7 separate regions of the Homo sapiens genome follow, and regions 1, 2, 3, 4, 5 and 7 are each linked to region 6. Evidence: fine-mapped expression QTL. A gene starts in region 6. Each other region holds a variant in brackets. All regions are shown on one strand. Distances are between the middles of the regions.

Region 1 (4,387 bases), 150 kb before region 6:
CAAAAAATAAATAAAAAATTAGCCAGGCATGGTGTCTTACACCTGGAGTCTCAGCTACTCAGGAGGCTGAGGCAAGAGTATCGCTTGAACCCAGGAGGTGGAGGTTGCAGTGAGCCAAGATCGTACCACCACACTCCAGCCTGGGTGACAGAGTCAAATACTATCTCAAAAAAAAAAAAAGAATTATGTTGTCACTTGAGCACAGTGGCTCGTGCCTATAATTCCAGAACTTTTGGAGGCCAAGGCAAGATCAGTTGAGCCCAGGAGTTCGAGACCAGGCTGATGGGTAACCCAGTGAGACCCTGTCTCTACAGAAAATGGAAAAAGTAGCCTAGCGTGGTGGCACGTGCCTGTGGTCCCAACTACTCAGGAGGCTGAGGTGGGAGGGTCACTTGAGCCCGGAGGTCAAGGCTGCAGTGAGCTAGGATTGCACCACTGCACTCCAGCCTGGGCAACAGAGTGAGATCCTATCTCAAAAAAAATTATGAAAAAAAATTATGTTGTCAAACTCATAGAAGTGGAGAGTAGAATGGTGGTTGCCAGAGGCTGCAGAGAGGGTAAAAGGGAATTGCTCCTGAACAGGGATAAAGTTTCAGTTTCAGTTATGCAAAATGAGTATGTTCCAGGTCTGCTATACAACATCACACCTGTAGTTAACAATACTGTATTGTTCAATTAAAATGTTGTTAAAAGGGTGGGTCTCATGTTAAATGTTTTATTACAATAAAAAATAATTTTTAGGAAGAAAGTTGTTAACTGGGTTTTTGTTTGTTTGTTTGTTGTTTTGCAGATATCCTTTAACAGACCTAAAGCTGTGTGATTTCTAGTAATCCACCTTTCAGAGCGTGACTTCCACCCGTCTAAATCCCTGGGAGTGAACTCATGGAGTTCTGGGGGGAAAAAAAATCCTGGGAGGTCGGGTTGGCCACAAAGCCCAAGATGTTCCCCAATTTACTAATTAGGTTAGAATTCCACACAACCAGCACCTCACCACCACCAAGAATTCTAATGGAAACTTTCTTCAGTGAAAACTAACTTCATTTATTTCAAGGCTGGTGCTAATTTTGGTTGTTGACTGCTTTGGCCTCCGATTATGGGAGGTATCCTGGGTGGGAACTGTCAGGGGAAGCTACTTGGAAGGCAGGACTGAGCCGGACCAAATTGCAAGATTCAAACCAGTGAGGAGGCCCAACAGCGGATTCTCCACAGACCCAGCAGAAGCTCTCGGGGGCTGGAAAAGGGCGCCACCTGGTGGCATCTGAGCAGAAGTCAGTGACACGTTTTCACCCACATGTCAGTACAGCTCCCGAAGCAGGTCCAGCGGAAAAGCTCCGGTATGAAGCTTTTCCCTTTACAGTGTGCTGTGAGGGTGTGTAACCACAGTTAATGGAAAGGGACCTCACTGGACTCAATCCAGTGACATCACACATGCCGTGTCTCCCACCCACAGAGAGAACTCCCAGGTCTTGAGTATGTGATGCCTGGAGCCTCATCTACCTTCTGAAGGCATCGTTCAGGCACGCTTTACATATGAGCAGTGTTTGGATTATTAATTGGAAAGGTCAGAACACCGTTTCAGCGGGTATATGAAAGTGATAGCAGCGGTGTCTGGAACATAAAGGAGAGTGTGTTTGTCCACTCTTCCTAGGGACACAGGGACGGGGACACTCCCCACTCTCCCCTGGGACACGGGAATGCTCTCCACTCTCCCCTGGGACACAGGGACGGGAACACTCTTCCCTGGGACACATGGGGACGCTCCCCACTCTCCCCCGGGACACAGGGGGACACTGTCCACTCTCCCCTGGGACACACGGGGACACTGTCCATTCTCTCCCGGGACACACGGGGACGCTCTCCACTCTTCCCTGGGACACACGGGGATACTCTCCCCTGGGACATATGGGCTGTCCACTCTCCCCCGGGACACACGGGGACGCTCTCTAGTCTTCCCTGGGACACACGAGGACTCTCTCCACTCTTCCCTGGGACACATGGGGACACTCTCCAGTCTCCCCTGGGACACATGGGGACGCTCTCCACTCTCCCCTGGGAGTTCCAGAGTGACCGTCATCGTGAAAAATGACAGGGATTGATGTAGTTTCCTGGCTTTTGACATTAACCCACAAACCCA[A/G]CTACCACTCTGGGTTTTTCCTAGAGCGTAAGCCTTAGCTGACGCCATCCACACATTATGGTGCTGTGGATTTTCCTGTAATGAAAAGGAAAAGATTCAGACAGCAGGAAATAAGGGGCCAGGGGGAGGCTAAGGCTGTCATGATGGCAGAGAAGTCTCAACCCATGATCTTGGAAAAGCTGTCCACATTTAGGATCCCGTCTGCTTCTGGGGAAAACTTCCCTGGTTAGCTTCACCTTAAGGTCTCCGAAAGGTGTACGGTTCCAAGAATCTGGAGGGGTCTTTTTGAGTTTGGGGTTAGCCGATTTTTCTAAAATGTGCACAAGTTCTGGGTCCATAGTTCTTACACACATAATTAGCAAACGTCCCAGAAGGCGGCACGCAGACTCCTTGGATTCAGACAAACCCAAGCCAAAAGGGACCTACTCAAGGCCTCTAACTGGATACAATAGAGTTAAGTTTTGGATCCAATTCAATCCTGGACCCATTCCGGTCTAAGAATTGCTCAAGGCCGGGCGCCGTGGCTCATGCCTGTAATCCCAGCACTTTGGGAGGCCAAGGCAGGTGGATTGCCTGAGCTCAGGAGTTTGAGACCAGCCCAGGCAACACAGTGAAACCCCGTCTCCACTAAAATACAAAAAAATTAGCCGGGCGCGGTGGCATGTGCCTGTAATCCCAGCTACTTGGGAGGCTGAGACAGGATAATTGCTTGAATCTGGGAGGCGGAGGTTGCAGTGAGCTGAGATCACGCCACCGCACTCCAGCCTGGGCAACAGAGTGAGACTCCATCTCAAAAAAAAAAAGAATTGCTCAAAGTAGAGGGCTCAAAACACATGGTCATAGAGCACAAATCCAGCAGAGAGAACTCACCTATGACTCTAGATGCTTTGAGAGATCAGCAGGCACACAGGCCCTACTGAGCATTCAGTGCTCCTAGGGGGTGGCTGGAGGTCTACTTCAGATCCCACTTCTGACACCAAACTGTTAAAACAAAAACTTTGGACAAATTAAATTTAAGAGTTTGTGTGTGTGTGTGTGTGTGTGTGTGTGTGTGTGTGTGTGTGTGACAGAGTCTCCCTCTGTCATGCAGGCTGGAGTGCAGTGGTGCAATCTCAGTTCACTGCAACCTCCACCTCCCAGATTCCAGTGATTCTCCTGCCTCAGCCTCCCGAGTAGCTGAGATTACAGATGCCACAACACCTGGCTAACTTTTGTGTTTTTAGTGGAGACGAGGTTTCGCCATGTTGGCCAGGCTGGTCTCGAACCCCTGATCTCAAGTGATCCACCCATGTTGGCCTCCCAAAGTGCTGGGATTACAGGTATGAGCCACTGTGCCCAGCCAACAGAGTTTAATTGAGCAAAACACAACTCATGAATTGGGCAGCACTCAGAACCAATGGGGGAGGTTCGAGAGCTCCACTCTGTAATGTGGGCAGGAAGTTTTTATAGATAGAACACAGAAGTGAGATACAAAAAAAAAAAAATCACAATTAGCTTGATTTTGTTACTGCTTGAAATGTTTGCCTTATATGGCATGATCAGATCAGTTAGCAGCCTGTGACTGGCTGAGACCCAGCTATTTGTTCCAAAATATACTCATAGGTTAAGCTTTTAGCTTGTTTCTGTGGTACATTAGGTTGCAGTTTGTTGTTACCTAGAAACTCAAGGCACAGAGGCAGCCTGTTAATTGAGTTAATTTAACAGTTCAAACAAATACTTATGCACCAGTGTTTATAACAGCACTATTCACAGAGTTAGTTTGAAAGCAATCTAAATTCCTTCTTTGGATAGCCTAGACATTTCTCCTGGCCATAAGAAGGGGTGATGCCCTGACACATGCTACAATGTGGATGAACCTTGAAAACATGCTCAGTGAATGAAGCCAGACAGAAAAGGCATTAACCCAGAAACAAATATTGCATTTCCTTGATATGAAATATCCAGAACAGGCAAGTCCATTCACTGAGACAGAAAAGCGACCAGTGGTTGCCAGGGCATGGGAGGAGTGTGGAACGGGTCGTGACTGCTTAATGGATGGGAGTTTTATTTTGGGGTGGGGAAAGTGTTTGGGGACGAAACAGAGGCGGTGGTGGTTGCACAATGTTGTGAATGTCACTGAATTGTTTACTTTAAAATAGTTAATTACATGCTATGCTGATTTTATCATAATAAACTATTTTAAAATTATTTTGTGAAAAACTGTGATGCTTGGGATTTGCTTCAAAATAATGTGGGTGGGGTGGAGGTTCGAAA
Region 2 (4,328 bases), 37 kb before region 6:
AGAGGACTTCCGCCAGTGGCCTGGGCCCTTTCCAAATCCCTGACCAGGACGGCAAGGCTGACCAATGGTTGTGGAGACAACAGCCACAGCAACCATACACCACTGTCTAGAAATAGTTTGATAAGCCAGGGACGCGCCAACTTCAAAAACAAATACCAGGCACGCTCACGTTTGACCTCAGACGGGAGCAAGGCTGGCGAGGAAGCAGTCCGGGATGCTCTAAGTCAGCTACACAGGGCGCCCACGCCACAGCCCCAACGCTGGGCCTCCAGGGATGGGGCAGCGCTGCAGGGCTAAGCCTTTGTTCTGCTTAGGGCCCCGGCTCCTCTGTAAAGTGGGAAAGCTTGGAGGTGGGAGCAGCGCCAGCACGCCTGGCACTGAGGCAATGCTCAGAGCAGGCGCAGGTTTGCTGGGCAGCAAAGCTCATCACAAAGTGGAATGACCACACATCAGCTGGCCCCAATGCCCTGCGCAGCCCACGGCCACTCCCATCGCTCACGTCATAGACGTGAGTCGCACTCATGTGAAGATCTGGACAGACTACCTGGTCTAAAGGGGGAAGTGGATGGGAGACCACGAGCAGTTTTCAATGGATCACAAGAAACCAGTGACCCAGAGTCTTCAAATCCTTCTGCAAAAAAACAAACAAAACCCAAAAGGAAAGAAAACCTGATTATGCTGCTTAAGTCAAATCTGAAGTCAAGGATTTTGAAAAGTTAAGCCACAAACTCAGTGTGTGACTAATTCTTTAAGAGCGTACAGCAATGATAACCAAGTCTACAGCCCTTGGTATTCCCAGGCAGCCTCCACTCCAAGTCCTAACCAGGCCCTGCTTATCTGCCAAGATCAGAGAGACTGGGTGTGCTCGGGGTAGTATGCCCATAGATGATTACCTAAGTTTCTTGAATATGAAACTTTAAATAATTTTTAGTTTCTTTTTCTAGAGTAAATTCCCAGCAAACTTTTTTTTTGAGACATACTCTGGCTCTGTCACCTGGGTTGGAGTGCGGTGCCACAGTCTCGGCTCACTACAACCTCCGCTTTCCAGGCTCAAGCGATTCTCATGTCTCAGCCTCCCAAGTGGCTCGTTCTACAGGTGTGCGTCACTGCACCTGGCTCATTTTTGCATTTGTGGTAGAGATGGGTTTCACTATGCTGGCTAGACTGGTCTCGAGCTCCTGGCCTCAAGTGATCCGCCCACCTCGGCATCCCAAAGCACATGAGCCACTGTGCCTGGTAGACTTCCCTTCTAAAATACCTGCTGTTCAAAGTGGTTCTTCCTTAAATGGCCTTTTCCAGTCTTCTGCATGTGGGACGGACGTAGATTAGCAAAGTGAGGATGGCTCCCGGTTTGGCTGGTAGCTGGTGGGGGTCTAATTTCTGAATGCTGGACTCAGGGCAGGTATGGCGGGGGAGAAGGCAGGGAGGGGCAGGCAGGAGACTGGGGAGTGGGGAGCTGACCCATACCAGGGCAGCCCCCAGGGATCTTCAGTGTGCATGTTGTGAACGCCTGCGTGGAGGGAGCCGCATGAGGGGAAGGCTGAGGGTGTCTGGACTGGGTGAGTTACAGGGGCCCAGCGACGTCAACGATGGAAACCGTCCCCTGGTTTGGGACAGACTGAAGACTTCTCACATGTTAGTAACGATAGCCTCTGTCTGGCCAAAGTGAAAACTGCACACCAGAAGCCTCAATGAGACTGGTGGGAAAGGCAATGCCACCAGATGGCGGCCAGCTGCCAGGGGTCGCCATGCCGACGTTTATCCCAAAGCCTTTTCTAAGGAGGGAGCACGGGCGGGAATCTGCAGCTGGAGCAGTCACAGGGTTTCCAACCACGACAAACACGCCTGCACCCCGCACGCACAGCCGGGCCCCAATGAGGGTTTCCATCAGCCCTTCCCTGGGAAAACTCTGCAGGCTTCTGGAAACATCCACACGGCTCTGGAGGACCTGGCTGTGGTCCCTGCCATGGCGCCGCTGGCACTCCCACGGCTGGTACGCAGCACCATGGCTGCTTTTACCCAGAAACGAGCAGCAGACTCACCGGGCGCCTCCCTCACAGCTGCCACCACGCTGGAGAAGGGCACTTTCCAACCAAAGCCACCACAGCAACTGTTAATGTCACCAAGGTTTCCCACTGCCAAGAGCAACGGTAAAATCTGTGCTCTTTTAACGGATGCCAGAAAATCTTTCACAACTGAGTCAAGAAAGGGGCTTAAAAACAGCGAGCGAATCTGAGGGCACCCAGGTTGATGGCCGTCCAACCAAAACAGTGCCGTGCGCCTGGGCACAAGTGAGGGATCCTTCCGAAAGCTTGCAATTATTACCACGCGGTTTTGAAGTAATTCATTTCATTAAGTGTTTTGTGAAGGACATAACCCCCCGGGACACACGAGAATGCCTCCGTTGGGACTGGAATCGCTGCCCACAAACAAACGGAGAAACAGTCAAAGGTGGCCTAAGACCTGGGAAATCAGGAGCAGTGGTCCACATACAAAATCAGGGCCAAAACGTTTTACTTTCCATTTGAATTTACAACCA[T/C]ATACAGACAATATGGTAAGATTTTAGAGAAAACAGATCATCACTACGAATATCCATATTCTGATTTCTTTTGAGAACCAAGGTGCCTTTTAAAATGCGGCTTTTTAGAATAGCATGTGTTGTTTCTGTCTGGGATCTAGATCTTGTCTGCTACAAAACAAATGAACACACCCTGTGTAACAAAATCGAATTTTAACATTTAAATCTTGATTCCAATATTCCTGACCTATCTCTTGTCATATGAAAGAAAGAAGCCTTTTTTTAAAACAAAGTTTCAATTCAGAATTTTTACAAACAAAAACAATCCTGCGTCTACTTAATATCCCTGTATATCCTCAAAAAGCAAGTTCAGGAAATTTAAAAATGATTTATAAAAGGCACTGAAGTTAGCAAAAGCATTGGTGGGTTTTCATTTTGGATTAAACACTGGAAATGTTCACAGAGAAACAACTGTGTGAGCAGTTGCCCGTAACACCCAGGAAGAAACCGACCTCCAGGCAGCACCTCCTGAACACCTCAGCGGCTCCTCACACATTCCAACCACAGACCTTCATTCAAGTCAAGGTGAAGGCTACAGTCAGCACGGCAAGAAACCAAGATGGGACTCAAACCTCTAAATGCAACACTCTGCATACAGGAGATCCCAACTGAAATGAGTTCCAAAATAACGGATACCTTTATCGTATAATCATTTATGCTCAACAAAGCCTCAGGATAAATTTGAAAACAGAACAATGTATAGACTGTATTACTGCTGCACTGGCTCCTGAATGAAGCAGGCGGTGAAGGCTCACGTGCTGAGGAAACAGGGAACACCTTGGCGCCGCTGCTGAGCTCTGTGTTGCTCCTGGTATCACTCCCACGGGCTGCAAGACTTCCCAAGAGAAAAGCTACTTTCATCTTCTGATCAGTAATTTAAATATTCCGAACAACCCAAATCACAATGGTTGCTGCAAGTCTGAGGCGCGCTCCTGGCTCCCTGATCCCTGCCGTCCACCTCCCTCTGTCTGAACCATGAGACCCACGGGCGAACCAACAGGCACTCTGCCACCATCAGATGCCACCCCCCAACCCAGGAAAAGACAGGGCGGCAAATAGTTCATCTTGGTGAGTGCAGGTTATCAAAGGGACATCGGTGCTCACGCCTCCGCCAAGCCCCTCCTCATCCACAGCGTCTGTCGGATGAGGTGAGTACAGGGTAAGTACAGGGCTGCCTGCCTGCAACTGCCTCAGCGCCCTTTCCTCTGCTATATTTCAGACCTAGAAATTGCCACCTAAAAAGTCTACCATTACCACATGGATATTTTCCAGAAAATTGGTAACTGAGTTTGCTTTCATTAACTTCTAACTTCTTCCAAAATATCAGAAATCTAAGTGTTATATAGAACATTTAAATCTTCTAAAATTCTCACACCCTCAAAGTGAGGAGTAATAATTTAATCAGAATATATTCCTTTTTGACAGTTTAGCAATAAACATATGACCCTTCCTTCTTTAAAAATGAAGAACAAACCGAGAGCCCAGCGCCAAGCCTACAGGGCGGCAAGCTCAGCCAGGCGCGCCATCCTGCGGAGCTGGCTCCCGTGCACGGGGCTGTAGCGCCCAGGACTGCCCAGGCCTGGCTTTGCGGGGTTGCTTCCAGCCACGCTGTTTCTCCCCGGACTGTAGCTGTGAGGGCCACTGAGATCTGGCAGCTGAGACTTGAACCTTCCTTTCACCGCGGGACTGGGCCAACTGCGGAAAGCAAGAAAGAACTGTTAGCAGACGGGCACAGGCCCGGAGATGAACA
Region 3 (4,387 bases), 23 kb before region 6:
TCCCAGCACATCGGCCCTGGTAAGCAAGCCACAGAGCCAAGAACACACATTTCTCTGACAAACGTTCTCATCACCAATCACTGGTGGATGGTTTGAGATGAGGACAACCTTGGGGCTCCACAGGACATGGTCCCTGAGACCACGCACAAGGCAACAGGCTGGAACACCCAGCAGCACAGTATAGGGACAGCCAGGCACCACTTCCAGAAGCTTCTACAGCAGCTCACCTTGGCTGGACTCAGGGGCCCTGCGAAGGCTCTCAGGGTCAGTACCGGGTCTCTGGGGCTGCCTCCATAGCGGCTGACGTGAGAGGCCTCAGCCGTCTGGTCTGGGGACCACAGCTCCCCGATGACTGGAGAAGAAGTCTCTTCCGCTCTCAGGAGGGGCACGTAGTAGTGGCCTGAGGGAGGAGACAGGCACTGGCTGCAGGCTTCCGCCCCCTCCGCAGGTCAGGCCTGGGTGAGCAGGACGGGGATCACGCGAGCCCTTGCCAAGGCCTCTGCAAATGGATCCAACAGACGGGGCAGAGGGTGGTTTCCGCCAGAGCTCACTGCACTTAATGCAAATGGATACAATGGAAACAAAGTCACACAAGGTCTCAGAGCTCACTTCACTTAACCAGCCTCATTTTCCTCCACTGCTACAAGAAAAGAAAGAAAAGAAAAGGAAGCCCCAGGTAGTTAAAGGACTAAGGGGTCGGACCTGAGTGAATAAGAGTAGCACACAGTAGGAGCTTAATACATTTTAAAAATGTTATATTTCATTCCAGCCGGGTGCGGTGGCTCACGCCTGTAATCCTACCACTTTGGAAGGCTGAGGTGTGTGGATCACCTGAGGTCAGAAGTTCAAGACCAGCCTGGCCAACATGATGAAACCCCATCTCTACTAAAAATACAAAAATTAGCCGGGTGTGGTGGTGGGTGCCTGTAACCCCAGCTACTCATGAGGCTGAGGCAGGAGAATCACTTGAACCTGGGAGGTGGAGGTTGCAGTGAGCCGAGATCACGCCACTGCACTCCAGCCTGAGCGACAGAGTGAGAATCTGTCTCAAAAAAACAAAAAAAAGTAATATTTTATTCCTTCTCTCCTTTTTTTCTCCTCTTAGTTTCAGACAGAGTCTCATTCTGTCACCCAGGCTGGAGTGCTGTGGTGCAATCATGGCTCACTGCAGCCTCGAACTCCCAGGCTCAAGGGATCCTCCCACCTCAGCCTCTTGAGTAGCTGGGACCACAGGCATGCGCCACCACACCCGGCTAATTTTTACTTTTTGTAGAGATGGGGTCTTGCTCTGTTGCCCAGGCTGGTCTCGAACTGCTGGATGCAAGTGATCATTCCACCTCCACCTCCAAAAGTTCTGGGATTACAGGTGTGGGCCGCTGTGCCCAGCCTCCTCGCTTCTCAGTCCTGCTTCTCTTGTAGTTTATCACAGGTGTGGGCTGCTGTGCCCGGCCTCCTCGCTTCTCAATCCTGCTTCTCAATCCTGCTTCTCTTGTAGTTTATCACAGGTGTGGGCCGCTGTGCCCGGCCTCCTCGCTTCTCAGTCCTGCTTCTCTTGTACTTTACAATTTGCATCACTGAATACGCATCTCTCAACAGATCTGGAATCACACGGCACTTGGATGTGAGTATGGAAAAAGCACAAGGAAGAGTAGTGTCTTCAGGTCCCACGGGACAG[C/T]GCAGTCAAGCCATATAGGATAGTGTCGTGAGGTTCTGTAGGTTGCACGGAGGCCACACACCACCTCGTCCTGCTTTCAAACCCAGCTCCTGGAGACCCAGAGTCAAGAGGCTTCCTTTACAGTCAATCATGCTACTCTGGAATGCCTGGGAATTTCTTATGTTAAAGGCTTATCATAGTTTCATAGTTTTTTTTTTTTTTGGAAACAGAGTCTCGCTCTGTCACCCAGGCTGGAGTGCGGTGGTGTGATCTCGGCTCACTGCAAGCTCCACCTCCCGGGTTCACACCATTCTCCTGCCTCGGCCTCCCAAGTAGCTGGGACTACAGGTGCCCACCACCACACCTGGCTAATTTTTTGTATTTTTAGTAGAGACGGGGTTTCACCGTGTTAGCCAGGATGGTCTCGATCTCCTGACCTTGTGATCCGCCTGCCTCGGCCTCCCACAGTGCTGGGATTACAGGCATGAGCCACCGCACCCGGCTGCTTATCATAGTTTTTATGCTTTTAATTTTTTTCTAATTGTAAAAGTGCTGTATGCCCATCAACGGTCAACTGGATAAAGAAAATGTGGTACATATATACCACAGGATATTAAGAACAAGATCATGTCCTCTGAAGTAACATGGCTGGAGCTGGAGGCCATGACCCTAAGGGAACTGACACAGGCAAGAAAACCAAACATGGCTCTCACTTATGAGTGGGAGCCAAACGCTGAGCACACATGGACACAAAGAAGGAACAAGAAGTCAGCAGGGCCTGGTTGAGGGTGGAGGGAGTGAGGAGGAGGGAGAGGATGGAAAAACTACCTCCTGGGTACTATACTGATCACCAGGTGAAATAATCCGTACCCCAAACCCCGGTGACATGCAGGTTACCTATATAACAAACCTGCACACTTACCCCTGAACCTAAAATGAAAGTTAAGAAAAAGTACGACAATTTCCATTCAAGAGTACTGAAGGTACTGAAGAATTTCCATTCAAGAGTACTAATTTTCCATACTGAAAATTAGGGCAATTCAAATACTCTGTCTTACATATTACTATCTTATATTTGGATGCATCCTATGTATGTTGGCATTTTACAGGTTAATTGGCAGTTTTTTCCCTCTTTCAGTGGCACAGGAAAAGAAGACATACAGTATGTACAGTATAGGGTGCATGGTAGGTATACGGTACAATTTACCTACACTTTACTCATAAAATACTAATGTTTACTTTTTTGGCATATTGATTTGAGTCCCTTTTAACAATTTCTGTCTACAGATGGGACTCACGGTCTCTGGACAGTTTTGTGCCTGGCTTTCTGATCCTATTTGTCTCTCATAACACTTTAGAGTCCTTCCTCATCTTCACACAAGCGTGGGTCTCTCTCTGAGTGACGGGAAGGGTGGGATGCAGGATGCAGCCAGCCCTGTAGCAGGCTCTGTGGCATGTGAAGCTACAACGTGACCGAGGCCCCAGCGTGACCACAGATGCTGACCATGCCTGGGCTTCGCATGAGCCTCAGAAGGACCAGGAAGGAGGTGTAGGAGCTCTGGAGGTGCCGTGTAGCTCAGCCCACAGGAACATGGATCTCACAGAGCTGCCTTCTCCTCAGCAAACAGCTGCTGGGGCAGATCTTAGAGGCGACAGTGTTTTACTGTCACACATAGGCAAGGATCTCTCAGACAGAATTGCTTCCTAAATACCATCACAAAGCAATGCTTAATGTCAGCGTTGCAAAGCATTTCTGACAGTGTGGTTTGAAAATCCGGAGCAGACTCTCGGCTCTTCAGGGATGTTCTGGCAACATAGCTGTGTGTTCCCAGGGCCTCTGAAGGTTCCGGCTGGGCCTCTGCAGCGACGCCTCAACGGCCCTGAGGAGGAACTCTCGCCGCTAACAGCATGCAGGATTCATTTCCTGTGCACAGCTACACACACTGAAGAAGTGTAATTAATAAATTATACCTAGGACGGGAACAGATCAGGGGACAAGCAGAGGCTCTTCACACCTTAGATCACGCTTGGTAAACTTCTATAAAATGTCAGACAGTAAATAATTAGGCTCAGTAGGCCACAAGTCACTGTGTGCTGGGAAAGAACCCGGACAGTGTGCAAATGGTGGTGACAGCTTTATGCTGATAAAATTTTATTTTTAAAAGCAGTCATTTGCGGACCCTGCTTTAAATAGAGACAGAGTTTTGGATAGGAATGGAATCCGAGAGAGAGGAAAGCAGGCAGGTGGGTGAAAGGACCTCAGCGTCTGCTTCAATCTCACCAGCAAGCAGAAGCTCCAGACTTCGAGCTAAGATGGCAAAGAAGAGGCGCTTCTAGAAGTGTCATCTTCCAAAATTCACTGAAAACAGAGGAAGATGGCAGGGAAAAGCCATCCCTGAAACCAGCCGTTTTCACATGCCTGGCACCTACAAACCGCAAGGCACAGGGGCCAACAACTAGAAGCTGCTGACTAGAAGAGGGCGGCCCAGAAAGCAAAGGCCTCTCTCCCAGAGGCGAGTGGGGAGGGAACGTCCCGGAGGCGAGTGGGGAGGGAGTGTCCCGGAGCCAAGACAGGAGCCTGGGCGTGCACCAGGAGTACAGGAGGAGGAAGGAGGCAGCTTCAGAATCGAAGGAGTGACAGGGAGCGACCCCCACCCCAACACAGGCAAAGAGACACACAAAAGCCAGGCCAGCCACCCAGCCAAGGAGCTCTGGACCCTGCCTCTCCCTGAG
Region 4 (4,387 bases), 88 kb before region 6:
AACTCATGCCATTGCACTCCAGCCCAGGCCAACAACAGCGAGACTCCATCTCAAAAAGGGAAAAAAAAAAAAAAAAAAAAAAAAGACCTGAGATGTGCCATGTCCTGAGGAACAGGGATCAGAGAAGAACTGGTGTCTCCCTCTCCAGTCACATAACACACTTTGTAAGTGTGCTTTCTAACCATTATGTAAACAGATTTTACAGTCACTAATCCTGTCATTTGTAGGAATTTACTGTCATTTTTAAGTCTCAACAACAAAAAGTAAATAAAATTTAAAACCTCCAATGGCTCCCCAGTGCCTATAAAATAAAGTCCTAATGCTTTAAAACAGGACACGGGATACATCCCACCAGGACCCACCTTCCATGTTACTGCATTTCAGGAGCAGCTCACACCCCACCTCTCATGAAGCCCTCCGACCTTGTGACAGCATCACACGTCACAACCATGACTGCCCTGTCCCACCAGAGACCCTGTGTCATCCGTCCACAGCACCACACGCAGCAGGTGCACAATAAACGTGCTGCTGAAAGACGTGGTCTGTGAAGAAGGCGCCAAACACAGACTGGCTCTTCCTGCCTCCCTGATGGTTACCTCTTCAAAGTTGGTGACTTGCTCCACAGGCACTTTCTCCTCTTCCTCAAGGGCGTGGCGCAAGGTCTTCTCAACCCGCTGCAGCAGGAAGTCAAAGGCGGCAGGATTCTAGCACAACAGTGAGACGACGGGGTCAGAGGGGAAACACACCCACACTAGCCTGCCTCAGGTTTGACGCTGTGGCTGCACGTGGCAGGTTGTGCCCGAGAAAGCTCCGGAAGGACTCATGTGCACAATCTGCAGTGCACTGCCCTAAAGAAGCCCCCGGGGGGTGCTGGGCCAGAGAAGCCACACCCGGTGAGGGGCCGTGGGACAGGATGGGGAGAAGGGGCTTTATTTCAGCCCCTGCAGCTTCTGGGTCCTACCACAGCACAAGAGTGGGAAGAATCTGAATCCCAGGGAAGAAGCACACCATCCTAAACCGGCAAGGGATATCGCTGCGGAAAACCCCAGACTCGAGGGCCTCCACGTGGCCCCCGACGTAGGTCTCAGAGTCCAGCACGTGTCCGTCGTCCGTCAGCTTATTGAACTCCTGCTCTTGCTTGTTGGGGAAGATGATGTTGGCGTGGAAGGCCTGCACCATCAGCAAGGCCTCACACAGAGTGCCAGAGCCCTTCCGCAGCACCTGCAAGAGAAACCAAGGCTTCCAGCCAAAAGCAACACCAAAGGCCCTGACTTGCAGGCAAAGTCCAGGAACCTAAGCTGAACTTCAGTGTGAAAGGAGAGAAAACCTCGTGGTAAATGGCTGCAAATTCTGCCTCCTGTGGTTTCTTCCTCACACCAGGGCCAGAGAATTCCCAAAGGACATCCCTGACGTCACACACCAGAATTCTACTGCCGCCTCTGGTGCCAGCACTCCTGGGACATCCACCTCCATTCAGCTCCAGTGCATTTGGAATGGGGCAAGGGCTGAGGAGGCCAGGGTGCCGACAGGACAGATAATGCTCACCTCGTCGGGCTCCATGGGAATAATGGTGCACAGAGCAAAGATGAATGGGTGGACGTACTTCATGTACAGGTAGTAAGTGGCGACAGCATCTGACACAGAATACGTGGCCAGAGTCTGAGGAGAGAACGCCAGAGAGCAGGGCCATCAAAAATCAAGAGCCCAGGGTCAAGTGTGAAGCACAGAAAGCAAAGCCTGGCCTGACCAGCCTGCCGCACACACAGTAAGGAGACCGGCACAGGACAAAACACGTGTGTCCCGGAGACACAGCCTGCTGGGTGGAGCGGGCTGGCATACATGCGTGCACACGGCAGCAGGGGGAGCCGGGATGTGGCTCACATGCCTGGGGCTGCTCCGTGGCCATCTGGATGCGTGCACACGGCAGCAGGGGCAGCCGGGATGTGGCTTACGTGCCTGGGGCTGCTCCGTGGCCATCCGGCACATGTCCTCCGGGTCTAGCTCCACGGGATCATAGCCTAGCTTGGCCTTGGCGGCCGCCTTGAGATTATGACTGCCCACAGGAAGGTAACTGTCCCTCTTCACCCACCTGGAAGGAGAATGAGAACAGAAGCCAGGATGATTCTAACATGCAGCCCGGGAACCCCTGAGAACTGGCAAAACTGGGCACCACACAGACAGATGCAAGTTCCTAACAGGCACCCAGGAGCCTCACACCAAGGCCCCACATGGTGTAGACACCTTGTGAAAACCCTTCATCAGGATCTAGTTAATCTCACAGACCTATCCACAACACAAGGAAGCACCAGGACTGGTCCTTCCGGCCCTCGCCTTCCTCCCATCCTCAGCAGAGTTTGTGGCCTCTCCGACGGGCGCCCCACCTCCTTGGGCCTCTCCCCAGACCTCAGGTCTGCACCCCTGGGGCCTAGTTCTATCAACCACACTGATCTTCTCTCCTCACACTGTCCCTTCAGCACGGAAACACTCAAGCCCACCCTCCTTTAATAGAAGGCAAGATGTGATCAGATG[C/G]CAAGAAGAATAAAAATTTAAAAAATAAATAAAAAATAAAAATTAAGAAAAGAAGGCCCCCCACACTCTACCCGGAACCTGTCTCTACCTCCTCCCTACAGACGCATTCCCTGGAGCAGCTGTCCAGGGGTCATGTCCGGTCTCCACCCCCCGCAGCCTCCACCCTGTGGCCTTCTTCTCTCACTTTACCTCTTGCCTTCAGTTCATCCACTACCCCAGCTTTCACCAAGACCCACCCGCAACCCAGTGAGTCCCAATCTACAGTGCGAGCCCAAACCAAGCCTCATGGTGGTCTTCAGGGCCCCCATATGGGTGGGGCTTCCAGGCTAGCATATCGGTAGCAGGGTCACCTCCTGCCTCAAGCCCCTTCTCTACCCATTCCCTGTCTCCACGGATGGCACAAAAACCCCAGGTGCCAACCCCTCCCTAAGAACCAGCATCCCTGGGCCTCCCCCTGCCCCACATGACAGATCCTGAATCCTCACAACCCTCACTCCCTGCCTTGGATCAGGACTGTCACACCGTCACACGCTAAACCGGCCCCAGCCTCCTGGCCTCCCTCTCCAAGCCAAGTGCTGAGCATCAGAGCTAAACAGAAACGCATTCAGGCTGCAAGCACCCCAGTGGCACTGTGCAGAATACAGAGGCCGTGGAGGCCCCTCCATTCCCTTCCTTCCCTCCCTCCCTTCCCTTCCTTCCCTCCCTCCCTTCCCTTCCTTCCCTTCCCTCCTTTCCTCCCTCCCTTCCCTTCCTTCCCTTCCAGCCTCCTTCTGTTGGCATTTCCACATCCACCTGTCTTCCCAACCAGTCATGTCAGAGCCCCCGAACGCCGTGACTCTCCGAAGCTCTGAGCTGCCTCCCACCCTAGCTCATATGGAATCTGTGGTTGTCCCGTGAGGCTTGTCCTGTGAGGCAGCCGGGCTGCCACATCCCAACCTTGCCTGGGCAGAGCAGCTCCATGAGGTCCTAGGTCTGGGACCTGTCAGCTGAGTGCGTCTTTCCAGCGGCTTCCCCACCCCAGAGGCTGATGCTCAATGTGCCTGGTCACTGATGAATTGTCAGTCAACAGTCAAAGACAGCACATCCCGGGCCCTGGCAGGGTTGCAGCTGCCATACTCTTGGGTGACCTGAAACGGCCTCTCGGAGGCCACCCTCCTCCCATGAGATGTGGTGACAGCACAGTCTGCAAGAGGCCTTCAGATCTCGCTCACGGACAGCAGTGAGGAGCCATGCTGCTCTGTGGCCCCTACCTGAGGCAGTCCATGTGGATGCACTGGGGCGCCTTGTACTCCCCCTGGCTGTCCTTCTGGAAGCCTATCTCCTGCTGCATGCTCAGACCGTGGACTGCTGCCCGGGCCTCCACAAATGGCCTGGGTTGGAAAGAGGACAGACAAGCAAGTGGGCAGGTCAGGCTCTAATGCCCCTTTCTCCATTCCTCCCTCAGACCCAGGGAGGAACCCAGACACGGGAGGTGCAGAGTGAACCCAGGAGCCACCTCCTAAGTCGACATGGGAAGCGCCCCTGCACCACGCAACGCCCTCCCTCTCAAATGCTGCCCAGTTACTCATAGAGAAGACACAGACTCACCAGTCAAAAAAGTCCCCGTTGTAGGTGACCATGATGGTGGGTTTGGTCTCCTGGACGTGTTCAAACCACCTTTGGATCAGATGAGCCTGAACCCAAGTCACAGCAGTCAGAGGTCTGCTCTTTCTCTTCTTCAAGCTATTCCAAATTCCTCTCCCAAAGTTCAGAAGCAGCAGCCTCATGTTGGCCCTTATTCCTGCCCCGCCCCTCCGCCCGTCTCTGGCAGAAAAGACGGTCATACCCTGAGAACAAAGCTCATGGAGCTGCAATTCTG
Region 5 (4,387 bases), 42 kb before region 6:
CGTGCCCGGCCGTCCCACGGGCTTCCCCGGGCGGCGATGGGGTCTGTCCTCCTGACACCCGCCCTGCCCGAGCACTTCCGCACTGACGGCTCCTCACTCTGCCCCCAGCAGTATTACGAAGACGGAGCCCGGATCGAGGCCGCCTTCCGGAACTACATCCACCGCGCAGATGCCAGGCAGGAGGAGGACAGTTACGAGATCTTCATCTGTCACGCCAACGTCATCCGCTACATCGTGTGCAGGTAGGCAGCTGCTGGGCTGGGCGTGGTCTAAAATAATTTCAGACTTAGAGAAAAGCATGAGGAAGAAGCCGAGCGAGACCCTCCTCCACTGCCGATGCCACCCTAGTCAGGCCTCACCAGCCCCCGGGCGTCCACTTCCCGCGAGTCCTAGTCAGTTACGCGGTAGGTGGCGTGTTACTTGGAGCTTCTCATAAGGCTGTTTTGGGCAAGGGTGGTGCAGACAGGGAGGGACCCCTGTGGTGTCCTGGGTGGGGTGCGTGCTGGGTGGGGGGTCCTGAGTGGGGTGCGTGCTGGGTGGGGGTGTCCTGGGTGGGGTGTGTGCTGGGTGGGGGGTCCTGGGTGGGGTGCGTGCTGGGTGGGGGTGTCCTGGGTGGGGTGCGTGCTGGGTGGGGGTGTCCTGGGTGGGGTGCGTGCTGGGTGGGGGTGTCCTGGGTGGGGTGCGTGCTGGGTGGGGGGTCCTGGGTGGGGTGCGTGCTGGGTGGGGGTGTCCTGGGTGGGGTGCGTGCTGGGTGGGGGGTCCTGGGTACGGTGCATGCTGGGCGTCCGCACTGCCCTGGTTGTTTTCCCTTTGTAATTGAACGTCCTGTTTCCCCTCAAACTCGACCAACCACCTTCTGCCTCCGGCTGGATCCCACTGGCAGCATCCCGCCGCTGTTGTCCGCTGGGGATTTTGTGCTTCTGGGGTCCTGACCTCTTTCACTTGCTGATCTGTGGGCGCTCCCACCCGTGTGCCAGCGTGACGGCTCGGGGTGTCCGCTCCCCTCTGGGTCGAGGCCACAGCTGAGTCACGTTGCTGCTCGGGCTGCTCCCTCGGGGGGCCCTTGTCCCTCAACCTGCTCTGGTGCCCCACTCTCAGCACCACAGAATGATCCGGGTTCAGGTTGCGTTTTCCCTGCCACCACCCTGCAATCAGCCACTTCTTTAAGGAGCTCCAGGGCTGCAGCCACGTTAGAGGGCCCCTTGGGGGGCAGGGCCAGCTCTACGGTTACATGCCTGAAACAGTCAGAAGGGTTGGCCAAATCTCACTAAATGCAAATTTGAAACAAATTTGCCTCTTCTCTGGATCCATTAGGAAATGTGTGTGTGGGCTCCGCAGCTGAGGGGGCCCTCTTGAGTGTGACGAGTCCTGTGGTGGGAGGACAGGACGGCACTGGTCAGTGATGCCGTGTGAGGCTGGGCCCTGGTCTCTGCCCGTCTGTCACCTGGGCCTGTCACCAGGGCTGGGGCTGCTGGGAGCACCATGGTCAAGAGCAGCAGCTCCCAGAAAGTCGAGGATGTACGGGCCGAGATTCTCAAGCTTGGCTCCAGACCAGATAGAGCTTTTCTGGGGGTTGGAGCCTCCGGGTGGTGTGGCCTCAGGCTAAGTGAGTACCTGTTTGCTGTGAGTCGTTCGTTGCCTCCTGTCTGTGCTTGTGAATGAGCCATATGGGTGGCTTCTATGCTGCCACCACCACCTTGTGTGTCCATGACACAGTCACCCCGAGGTGACACAAATGCTAAAAATGCACAGAAATAACCGGGGCGGGAGAGTGGAGCCGACCTGAGTCCACACAGTGGTGAGGGCCAGGCACGTGCACCTGGACACGAGAATATGGCTGTGCTGTTCCGGCCGGTGCCGCCAGGCAGCCCTGAGGAGGCTCGGGAAGCAGCGTGAGGGTGGCCATGCGGCCCACTGAGACAGGGCGGTGGGTGGCTCAGAGGCGATGAAGGCAACTCCGAGCTTTTCCGCAAATGCGAATTGTGCCTAAGAAGTGCATGAAGATGCCACGGCGGGTAGATCCCATCTCCGTTCTTTGCTTTCCCAGAAAGGGACCTGTTGCACTAACTGGCTGCTCCCTGCTTTTATATGGGAAAAGCAGAAATTAAACTGTGTTTCCTCGTAAGAAGTCAGCGTTGTTCTGATCTGTGCAAATCTTGAGTTGGGGTTGGGCCCCTGTCCTAAAGAGGGCAGGTCCCCAAGTGTGATGGCTCCATTCATGTCGATCCCAGTCATCGATTCACGTCGATCCCAGCCAGATCTTCCCCGAGAAGCCCCGACTGAAGACAGGAGCGGCTCGGCTGATGTGTACCCCGGCCCTGAGGCTGCTCTGAGACTTCTGAGGGGCTCAGCCTCTGTTTGTAGAACAGAGCCCCCTGGCACAGCCTGGCCCAGCCTCTTTTAAGGACAGAGTCCCCTGGCTCTAGCCCAGCCCGTTTTTTTTTTTTTAGACAGAATCTCGCTCTGTCACCCAGGCTGGAGTGCAGTGGCGCGATCTCAGCTCACTGCAAGCTCCGCCTCCCGGGTTCACGCCATTCTTCTGCCTCAGCCTCCCAAGTAGCTGGGACTACAGGTGCCTGCTATCACGCCCAGCTAATTTTTTGTATTTTTAGTAGAGATGGGGTTTCACCGTGTTAGCTGGGATGGTCTCGATCTCCTGACCTTGTGATCCACCCGCCTGGCCTCCCAAAGTGCTGGGATTACAGGTGTGAGCCACC[A/G]TGCCCGGCCTAGCTCAGCCCGTTTTAAGGACAGAGCCCCCTGGCTCTAACGTGCTCTTTCTCTCTCTCTCTCTCTCCCCAGAGCACTGCAGTTTCCTCCTGAAGGCTGGCTCCGGCTCTCCCTCAATAATGGCAGCATCACCCACCTGGTGATCCGACCCAACGGCCGAGTTGCGCTCAGGACCCTCGGGGACACGGGGTTCATGCCTCCCGACAAGATCACTCGATCCTGAGGGCTCCGGCCTCTCCTTCCCTCTGTCCTCCCTGCACAGGCCGCACACACTTAACGTTTTGTTCCCAAGGAGACCGGCGGAAAGTAGAAACCTGCAATGCTGCATCTGGGAACTGACTTGTGACCAGGCTGAGAAGGGGAGAGTTGGGATCAGACAGCCTGACTTCTCTGCAGGGTTTTATACCTGACCATGAACCCCCAGGATGGCGTGGGGTTTAAGGTGAAAGCGTCTCACGCACAAGTCAGGCCTGTTGTGGGGACTTGAAAGAGGCCTGACCCAGACCACCATGTTCGCACCCACAGCTGACCCGTGCTGAGGGTCCAGGCTCCATTGGCAAAGCCGGTCAGGCACGAGGGCGACTGAGGCACGTGGATGAGGAGGGCACCCAGGTTCTGTTCACAACTCACTTCACTTCATACATCCTTTTAATTTCTTAAAACCCTCTTGTCCCTTAAATATTTGTCAATTAAAGATTTTCTGGCTGGGCACAGTGGCTCACACCTGTATTCCCAGCTACTCAGGAGGCCAGGGTGGGAGGATCACTTGAGCTCAGGAGTTCAAGACCAGCCTGGACAAGGCAACATAGCGAGACCCTGTCTCTACTAAAAATACAGAACTTAGCTGGGTGTGTCGTGGGCATCTAGAGTCCCAGCTACTTGGGAGGCTGAGGTGGGTGGATCACTTGGGCCCGGGAGCTGGAGGCTGCAGTGAGCTGTGATTGTGTCACTGCACTCCAGCCTGGGCAAGCGAGGGAGACTTAAAGCAATTTTTTCTTTTGAAACGGAGTTTCACTCTTGTTGCCCAGGCTGGAGTGCAGTGGTGCGATCTCGGCTCACCGCAACCTCTGCCTCCTGGGTTCAAGTGATTCTCCTGCCTCAGCTCCCGAGTAGCTGGGATTACAGTCGCCCACCACCATACCTGGCTAATTTTTTGTATTTTTAGTAAAGACAGGGTTTCATGGAGAAACCAATATAGAATTGTTCAGGCTGGTCTCGAACTCCCAACCTCAGGTGATTCACCCACCTTGGCCTCCCAAAGTGCTGGGATTAAAGGTGTGAGCCATCGTGCCTGGCCTAAAAAATTTTTTTTTCTTCATCTGGGTTTTTGCTTTGAAAACAAGTTTCTCCAAATTTACAGATTTCCTGATGATGTTGGGTCTGAACTCACCAACTTGATTAGGTCTTTAGGGGCCGAGGGACTAGCCAGCTGCACAGGTGACTGGATGGGGGAGGGGCAGGTGAGGTGGGTCTACAGAGGTGGCTTCGCCTTTGACCTTCATGCTGGTCTCGGCTGAGGTGACACGCTAGTGACAGCCCAATAGGGGGTTACCCTTATTGAGTAAAATACTTCAGATTGACAGCTCAATCTTAGTTTGCCTCCAGTTAATCTTTTATGCTTAGGGATTAAATGTGTGGTTTTTTTTTTGTTTTTTTTTTT
Region 6 (4,387 bases):
GTCCGCAGCTCTGCCTGGATGATGCCGCTGGTGACAGTAACAGCACTCAGAGGTGCTTAACACATACCAAGTGCTGCACTTACCCAACTCCCAAAAAAGCCTAACCAGGTATCACTATCATCCCCATTCCTAAAAGAGCAGGCTGAAAACAGGTTAAGCCCACAGCAATAAGTGGTAGGGCCCGGTGCGATGGCTCACACCTGTAATCCCAGCATTTTGGGAAGCTGAGGCAGGTGGATCACCTGAGGTCAGGAATTCGAGACCATCCTGGCCAACATGGTGAAACCCCGTCTCTATTAAAAATACAAAAATTAGCCGGGCGTGGTGGCAGGCGCCTGTAATCCCAGCTACTCGGGAGGCTGATGCAGGAGAATCGCTTGAACCCGGGAGGCGGAGCTTGCAGTGAGCCGAGATCGCGCCACTGCACTCCAGCCTGGGCCACAGGGCGAGACTACATTTCAAAAAAAAAAAAAAAAAAAAGTGGTAGGGCCGAGACACAAACTCACACAATTGGACAGGAATCCCCACTCAATCATCAGAAAGCACCTCTCCGCAGTGACTAACAGTCTGACAATTTAGAGTAAAAACAAACTCAGTTTCTCCCACTAGTCTTGCAACATGCTTCGGACACCAGGTATGTGGGGATTTTCTCCCCACAAATCACGCAGGTCGTCAGTTCTGCAGTGGACACAGGCTGGGTGTCGTCTGTCATCCTAATTCAGTCATCTATTCTGACAGCGTCTTCCTGGAGATACCAGCAGACCCCCACAGGTTAACGGCTCAGCCCCGCAAGACTGCCCCCCACTTCCAGTGCCCAGGTTGTTTGACCTGCGCTTGGGACCGACGGGGCGTAACCCGGTGACCTCCTCAGGTTGCGGTAATTTGCTAGAGTGGCTCCCGAACTCACAGACATGTTTTACTTACACTTACCAGCAGAGTATAAAGGATTACAAAGAATACAGGTGAAGAGATGCGTGACGTAAAACCGGGGGGAAGCGCTTGGAAATTCAGGGCCTCTCTGGGCACCGCCTCCAGGAACCCCCACGTACTATCTGGAAGCTCCCTGAACCCAGCCCTTTTGGGTTTTTACAGGAACTTCATTTCACAGGCGTGATTCATCAGCCACTGGTGATCAACGCAACCTTCACCCCTCTCTCCTCCCCAGAGGTTGGGGGTGGGGCTGAAAGTCCCCAGAACCTCTAACCCTGCCTTGGTCTTTCCTGCGACCAGCCCCATCCAGAAGCTCCCTAGGGGCTGCCGGCCACCAGTCCACTCAGCCTACAAAAGACATCACTTTGGAGGTTCCCGGGATTTCAAGAGTTGTATGCCAGGAAAAGGGGATGGAGCTGAAATACACAGTTCACTGTATCAGTTACCTCAAACTTAAAACGACCAAAACCCACCTCTGATCTCCACATCACCCAGACCCGACAGTCTACCGCAAAGCAATAAATGGCCACCTTCTCCCTCTTCCTCTGGCCCCAAACCCCTGAGTTACATTTGCCTTTTCCGTCTCTGCCTTATGTTCCATGACCAGTAACCGCAATGGCTTCACGTTCCAAACACATCCGGGACCCAGGGGTTTCCTCCCCGCGCCGCCCTCCTTTGGGCCATCCCTCCCCAGGTCTCGAGAGACCGCAGCAAGAGTCTCCGCTAACGCCTCGCCGGGCCCCCGCCGCCTTCCCCGGAGGCTGCTCCAGGGCCCGGGAAAGCTCTCACCCCCGAACCCGGCGTGGCCCCTCCGCCCCCGGCCCGGGAAGCCAAGTCCCCGCAACTGCCCTTTCCGCGGCCGGAATGGCCTTTCCCGACCGGCCCTGGTTTCCCCGGCCGCCTCGCCCAACTGCTGCCGGCTCCAGGGGCGCGGCCGGGACCCCAGGCCCGAGGAGGGCGTCGGGGCGGGGAAGGGGCCAGGGTGCGGGGACCCAGCGACCGCCTGGGCCTTACCTGAGGCGGGGGCGGCGGCCGCGCTTGGCGGAGGAACTGGGGTCCCGCTGCGGCCCAGACCTCCCGGCCGCGGGCCCAGCCGCCGCACCAGCCACCGCACAGCGATCAGCAGCACCGAGGCGCCCAGCAGCTCCCAGGCCAGCGCCGCCCACTCGGCCGCCGCCAGCCGCGGCCACAGCATCGCCGCCGCCCGGGCCGCAGCCGCCGAGAAGCCCGCGCCCCGCGCCGCGCCCGTCCCAGGACCCCGCGCCGGGCTGCCCGCGCCCTGCCTGACGGCGCCGCGCTCGAGGCGGCCGGGGCGGCGCGGGGGACACGGACGGCGGCCCCGCTCGCGGAGGCCCGGCGAGGGCGCGGCCCCGGCCCTGGGACCCAAGCGGGCGGGAACGGGCGAGCGGACGGGCGGGCGCGGCAGGCGGGGCGCGGGCAGCCCGACGCGGGGTCCTGGGACCGGCGAGGCGCGGGGAGCGCAATGTGCTGGCGGGGGCCGGGGCTGGGGCCCGGGGAGGCCACCAGGGCGGGGCCGGGCGCGGGGCGGCGCTTCTTCGCGCCTCCCGGCCCCGGCCTGGCGTCCGTGGGGCGCTGTGCGTCTCCGAGAACGAAGCGGCCTCCGGGTTCGTGTGCTCCGAGCCCGAGTACTGTTTGCGGCCGTCGTCCCGTCCTGGAGCAGGAGTGAGGAAGCGCCTCTCACTCCCCCGCGAACCCGCAGAACAGGCCGCCGGCGCTATGGAGACCGGCGGAGCTTCCCGCTCCTTCACCAAGGGGCCCTGACGCGCAGTTGAAAGCGCGGATTTTGCCGGGCGCGGCGGCTGCGTCCGGAGTCCCAGCGCCTTGGGAGGCGAGGCGGGAGGATCCCCACGGCCCGGGAGCTCGAGACCAGCCCGGGCAAATATTTTGAAAGTCATGGTAAAAGCCGCAATTACTTTTGCACCAACCTAATAGTGAGACCCTGTCTCGAAAAAGGGAAGGAGGATTTTACTGTATGTAATTTAGATGTTTTATTTATTTTTTGATGCGGTGTCTTGCTCTGTCGCCCAGGCTGAAGTGCAGTGGCGCGATCTCGGCTCACTGCAGCCTCCGCCTCCTGGGCTCAAGCGATTCTCCTGCCTCAGCCTCCCAAGTAGCTGGGATTACAGGTGCCCACCACCACGCCTGGCTAATTTTTGCATGTTTAGTAGAGACGGGGTTTCCTCATGTTGGCCAGACTGGTCTCGAATTCTTGATGTCAAGTGATCCACCAGCCTCGGCCTCCCAAAGTGCTGGGATTACAGGCGTGAGCCACCGCGCCCCGCCTAATTTAGATATTATTAAATGAAAATGAAAGACCTGAAAAATATAATTGATATCCTTGGTTAAAAACATAATTGATCTGAGCGAGGTGGCTCAGGTCTGTAGTCTCAGCAACTCTGGAGCGTGAGGGGTGATGGTAGTTTCAGTCCGGGAGTTCGAGGCTGCCATGAGCGTGATCTCGCCTGTGAATAGCCACTGCACGCCAGCCTGACCAACATAGCAAGACCCCATCTCTTAAAAAATATCATTGGATGGTACTAATGGTTGGTTGGGCACTACAGAAGAAAGGGTCAGTAATTTTGAAGATGGATGAAATGGAAATTCAAACCACGATGAGATGCTGCTTGAAATCCACCAGAATGGCTAAAATTTAAAAATTGGCAATATCAAATTTTGCTGGCAAGAGCAAACACTGAGTTAACCACCTTGGAAAATAGTGAGGCAGTTTCTTTCAAAGTTAAACGTACACCTCTGCTGTATTCTGAGTGTCTGTCCCCAGCGTTCGTATGTTGAAACCCTAACCCCCCTTGGCCGGGCGTGGTGGCTCACGCCTGTAATCCCAGCACTTTGGGAGGCCGAGGCGGGCAGATCACGAGGTCAGGAGATCGAGACCATCCTGGCTAACACGGTGAAACCCAGTCTCTACTAAAAAATACAAAAAATTAGCCGGGCATGCTGGAAGGCACCTGTAGTCCCAGCTACTCGGGAGGCTGAGGCAAGAGAATGGTGTGAACCCGGGAGGCGGAGCTTGCAGTGAGCCAAGATCGCGCCACTGCACTCCAGCCTGGGTGACAGAGCGAGACTCTGTCTCAAAAAAAAAAAGAAACCCTAACCCCCAAGGTGATGGTATTAGGATGTGGGGCTTGTGGGAGGTGATAGGTCATGGGACAGAGCCTTATATACTTCCCTTAGAAGAGGCCCAAGAAGGCTGGGCACGGTGGCTCACACCTGTAATCCCAGCACTTTGGGAGGTCGAGACAGGAGGATCGCTTGAGCCCAGGAGGTGGAGACCAGCCTGAGCAATATGGCGAGACGCTGTCTGTGCTAAAAATTTAAAAAATTAGCTGAACGTGGTGGCACACGCCTTGAGGAGGGAGGATTACTTGAGCCTGGGAGGTCAAGGCTGCAGTGAGCGAAGATTGCGCCATTGCCCTCC
Region 7 (4,326 bases), 110 kb before region 6:
TTATATCTTACCTTGGTATCTAATTGTTGCTGAAATACATATAAGTTAACACAAAATCTAGGTTTCCTTACATTTTCTGTTAACAAATTACATCGCCTGTAAATAATAAGTTGATGTCTCCCTTTTCAATCCTTAATTCTTTTTCTGGTTTAATTATGCTGGCTAGGATCTCCAAACTGTTTTGAACAGAAGCAGTGGTTAACAGGCATCCATTTCTTACTCCTTACTTCAATGCTTCCAGTGTTTTGTGGTTAAGTATGAGGTCTGCTGTTAGGTTTCAAGAACACTTTATCAGGTTAAGAAACATCTCATCTATTCTGATTTTGATTGTTCAAACTTTAACATGAGCAGATGTTAAAGTTTTACCGCATGTTGTTTCTGCATCTATTGGAGATGATCTTACGAGCCTTCTCCTTTAATGATGAATTAGTGGATTTCTCCCAAGAAAAACTAACCTGGCAAATTCTAAAATTAAACAGTGCTTGCTATTCCCAGCATAAGTCCTAGTTGGTCATATTGTTATTGTTCATGTATGTTGATATTTTTTCATCTATTGTTCATGGCCCGTAACTTTCCTTTCCTGTTTTCAATTATGTTACCAAAGTAACAAGGATTGCCAAGGTTACCAAATGAGCTAAGGGTTTTTTTTTTCCTTTTTCTCTTAAAAATCATTTGGGTTTGATGTTTCTTTTACACTTATTTTTTTTCGTCTCTTTTTTTTTTCTTTTTGTGGAGAACGGGGTCTCGCTATATTGCCCAGGCAGGTCTCGAACTCCTGGGCTCAAGCTATCCTCCCGCCTCTGCCTCCCTGAGAGCTGGGATTACAGGTGTGAGCCACTGCGCCTGGCCTGTTTCTTTTTAAGTGTCAATTTCTGTAATGGTTAAAGTTCTATTCAGGTTTTTATTACTTCTTAGGTCAGTGCATAACTTGAGGATACTGTCCGTTCCATCTATGTTTTCCAACTGTTTAGCAGAAAATGGGAATCCTTCCATTTTTTTAGGCTTTACTATATCTATAATGATGTCTGTTTTCATTAAAATAAAAAACTCTGTCCTGAAAAAGATGTGACCAGCCAGGACAACATGACAAAACCTTGTCTCTACAAAAAATTACAAAAATTAGCTGGATGTGGTGGTGTGCGCCTATAGTCCCAGCTATGCAGGAGGCTGAGGCAGGTGGATCAATTGAGCCTGGGAGGTCAAGGCTGCAGTGAGCCATGACTGCGCCACTGTACTCCAGCCTGGGTGACACAATGAGACCCTGTCTCAAAAGAAAAGAAAAAGATGTGACTATTTTCCTAAGTCTTTTCAAAGAACAACATTTTGGTTGTATTGTTTGTTTCACTCATTCTGGCTCAATTTTGTAACCTCTTTCTTTTCTTTCTTGAGTTGGGTTCTCCCTGTGTTGCCCAGGCTGGGGTGAAGTGCCTATTCACAGGTGCCATCATAGCCCACTACAACCTCAAATTCCTGGGCTCAAGCAATCCTCCTGCCTCTCAGCCTTCCGAGTAGCTAGGACTATAGGTGTGCACCACCATGCCTGGTTACCTTTATAACTCTTTATAACTTCTGTCTACTTCCTCTGATGGATCTGTTGTTCTCTAACTTTTTCAGTTGGAAACTTAATTTTCTATTTGTTTTTCTTTACTAATACATGCATTTAGATATATAAATGCGTATACAAGTCCTGTTTAACTGCATACTACAAATTTTAATAGCATTTGTATTTACATTCAGTTCCAAGTATTGTCTAAGTTCTATGACTTTTTTGATCCACAAGTTATAAATGTGTTTTTTTTTTCTTAAATTTCCAAACATGGTCTGTATTTAAGTTATCTAGAATTGGTTGCAGCTTACTCTGTGGTATATATATGGTCATTATTTTATGTATTCTTGAAAAGGATAGGTATTCTCTAATTTTAGTGCAAGACTACATTTGTTCACTAAATGTATTATAGCTAGTGACTAAATCTAGTTAGTTGATTGTGTCATTCCAAACATATTTTTGCTGATTTTTGGTCTGCTCCAACTATCAATTGAGGGAGGGATGTTAACATCTCCCAAACTGATTGGAGGTAAATTCTTCTTATAATTAGGTAAATGTTTACATTATTTAATGTGAGGCTACATTGTTACAATTAGTATATATTTCCAGAGAATTGTGACTTTCAGTATTATGTAACAATAGTCCTTATGTTTCCTAATACTTTTGGCCTAAAGAGTATTTTGTCTGGTATTAATACAGCCACATCAGCTTTCTTTTGGTTAACATTTACCTGGTATACGTATTTTTTACTCCTTTTGCTTTTCCTGCGTCCTATCTTTTCAATATAACTCTTGAAATTGTTATACTGGCCCATAAGCCACTGGGCGCAGTGCTGTATTTCCAGCACTTTGCGAGGCCAAGGCGGGTGCATTCACCTGAGGTCAGGAGTTTGAGACCAGCCTGGCCAACATGGTGAAACCCCGTCTCTACTAAAAATTTAAAAAAAAAATTAAAAAAATAAAAATTAGCTAGGCATGGTGGTGCGTGCCTATAATCCCAGCTACACTAGAGGCTGAGGCAGAAAAAAATTAAAAAAATAAAAATTAGCTAGGCATGGTGGTGTGTGCCTATAATCCCAGCTACACTAGAGGCTGAGGCAGGAGAACTGCTTAAACCCAGGAGGCAGAAGCTGCAGTGAGCCAAACCCAGGAGGCAGAAGCTGCATTGTGCCACTGCACTCCTGCCTGGGCAATAGAGCAAGACTCCGTCTTG[G/C]GGGGCAGGGGAAAGAATACATATATAACTCTTACAAATAAGACAGTTAAATTTTAAAATCCAATCCATCTCAGAACCTTTTTCTTTTTTTTTTTTTGAGACGGAGTCTCGCTCTGTCGCCCAGGGGAGTGCAGTGGCGTGATCTCGGCTCACTGCAAGCTCCGCCTCCCGGGTTCACGCTGTTCTCCTGCCTCAGCCTCCCGAGTAGCTAGGACTACAGGCGCCCACCACTACGCCTGGCTAATTTTTTGTATTTTTAGTAGAGATGGGGTTTCACTGTGTTAGCCAGGATTGTCTCCATCTCCTGACCTTGTGGTCTGCCCACCTAGGCCTCCCAAAGTGCTGGGATTACAGGTGTGAGCCACCGCACCTGGTCAAAGAACCTTGTTCTTGTCATGTGAGTTTGTATACTGCTCTGATTTATAGCTTACTTTTAATTTTCAGCATTTAAGAATTTTCCTTTTGCTCTTCTGACTTTCACTGTACCTTTTATTACACTGTGTCCTGTGTTTCTAAGTGTTTCCATAGGGAAGATATTCATTTCACATTCAGAAAACTGGGGCTTCAAGAGACAGTGATTTGCCCAAGGCACTGAGTCTAAGTAGTGCACCCTAATATTTTCACATAAGGAGACAGTTCCTTGCCCTCACCTCAGCCTCACAATGGTGTCCTATTAACAAAAGAGTGACACTCAGAGTTAGAGAGTAAAGTGCCAATGGGCACATTTTCAGAAAAAGTCCATTTTCGATGCTTGAACAGAAGCTTCACTACAGCACACACAGCAGCGCAAGAAGCCTGGAGTCCTGTGTGTCACAAGGATCCCGCCCAGCCCAGCCTTGGGGCCCCACCGTCACCTGTCTCCTGCCCTCCAGGGTGAAGAGCTCACTGATCTTCTTCTGCTTGTAGACATCATTCTTCTCCAGCAGTTTTTTGTGCAGCCAGTCGGGGTGTTTGACACGTGGCACTGGGTTCTTTACCTGTGTGAGGCCAACACCCATCAGAGAGAGACCCTTGTCTAACTGCACAGTTTTTAGCCCCACAGCCCGTGCCACTGACCCCGCCCTTACCTGCTGCAGGGCCGCAGGGATGGTGATGATCTTCTGGATGGCGCTTCCCAGCCGCTCAATGTAGTAGTCCCAATCCAGAATCTGCATGTGCAGGAAACGGGCACAGAGAACAGCAGGTGGCAGCAGCCAAGAGTGGGGCTCACTTCATGCTGAGCACAGGGCTAACCACTGTGTCTTATTTAATCCTCTCAGAAACTCTATGATGAAAGGTGCCCATTGCACAACAGAGGACACCAAGGCAGGGAGCTTCACTGACTCCTCTAGATCACAGAGCTAGTAGGTGGCTGAGCCAACACCCCTGGCCTTAGTCCATCCAATAGAACAGCTAAAGGGCCCCAGGCACTTCATGTTTTCAGTTTTGCCCTAAAAGGTTATTAGGTGCTCACCTATTACTTATCAGAAAGGAGGAAGTCAAGAGTGAAGACGCCAGACAAAAAACATAATCCAACTCAGACATATTCTGCTCTGTCTAGCTTTCCTTGTAAACTTTTAAGAGTAGAG

What was found.
Region 1: its variant is fine-mapped to the expression of ANKLE2 in whole blood (TOPMed, PIP 0.93).
Region 2: its variant is fine-mapped to the expression of ANKLE2 in whole blood (TOPMed, PIP 0.99).
Region 3: its variant is fine-mapped to the expression of ANKLE2 in whole blood (TOPMed, PIP above 0.99).
Region 4: its variant is fine-mapped to the expression of ANKLE2 in whole blood (TOPMed, PIP above 0.99).
Region 5: its variant is fine-mapped to the expression of ANKLE2 in whole blood (INTERVAL, PIP above 0.99).
Region 7: its variant is fine-mapped to the expression of ANKLE2 in whole blood (TOPMed, PIP above 0.99).

What each region holds. Positions count from the first base shown.
Region 1 is chr12:132,613,831-132,618,217 of GRCh38, forward strand. No RefSeq gene overlaps it. Among named protein-coding and RNA genes, the nearest start is that of P2RX2, 2.8 kb to the right of the region's middle. The variant A/G (reference allele first, on the strand shown) is at 2,135.
Region 2 is chr12:132,723,171-132,727,498 of GRCh38, forward strand. It overlaps ANKLE2 (ankyrin repeat and LEM domain containing 2), which reads right to left. Exons shown (of 13, transcript NM_015114.3): 13 at 2,333-4,273. The coding sequence ends at 4,072. It also overlaps the pseudogene RNA5SP379. Among named protein-coding and RNA genes, the nearest start is that of PGAM5, 14 kb to the left of the region's middle. The variant T/C (reference allele first, on the strand shown) is at 2,540.
Region 3 is chr12:132,736,666-132,741,052 of GRCh38, forward strand. ANKLE2 (ankyrin repeat and LEM domain containing 2) reads right to left here. Exons shown (of 13, transcript NM_015114.3): 8 at 228-400. Among named protein-coding and RNA genes, the nearest start is that of ANKLE2, 23 kb to the right of the region's middle. The variant C/T (reference allele first, on the strand shown) is at 1,676.
Region 4 is chr12:132,671,619-132,676,005 of GRCh38, forward strand. POLE (DNA polymerase epsilon, catalytic subunit) reads right to left here. Exons shown (of 49, transcript NM_006231.4): 11 at 4,117-4,202; 12 at 3,780-3,899; 13 at 1,957-2,089; 14 at 1,546-1,659; 15 at 1,009-1,221; 16 at 597-704. Among named protein-coding and RNA genes, the nearest start is that of POLE, 14 kb to the right of the region's middle. The variant C/G (reference allele first, on the strand shown) is at 2,530.
Region 5 is chr12:132,717,879-132,722,265 of GRCh38, forward strand. PGAM5 (PGAM family member 5, mitochondrial serine/threonine protein phosphatase) reads left to right here. Exons shown (of 6, transcript NM_001170543.2): 5 at 109-242; 6 at 2,800-4,387. The coding sequence ends at 2,950. Among named protein-coding and RNA genes, the nearest start is that of PGAM5, 9.2 kb to the left of the region's middle. The variant A/G (reference allele first, on the strand shown) is at 2,718.
Region 6 is chr12:132,759,674-132,764,060 of GRCh38, forward strand. ANKLE2 (ankyrin repeat and LEM domain containing 2) reads right to left here and starts at 2,159. Exons shown (of 13, transcript NM_015114.3): 1 at 1,945-2,159. The coding sequence starts at 2,125. RefSeq lists enhancers at 1,505-2,373, 2,728-2,827 and silencers at 1,608-2,197, 2,288-2,577.
Region 7 is chr12:132,653,524-132,657,849 of GRCh38, forward strand. It overlaps POLE (DNA polymerase epsilon, catalytic subunit), which reads right to left. Exons shown (of 49, transcript NM_006231.4): 28 at 3,826-3,906; 29 at 3,613-3,735. Among named protein-coding and RNA genes, the nearest start is that of POLE, 32 kb to the right of the region's middle. The variant G/C (reference allele first, on the strand shown) is at 2,759.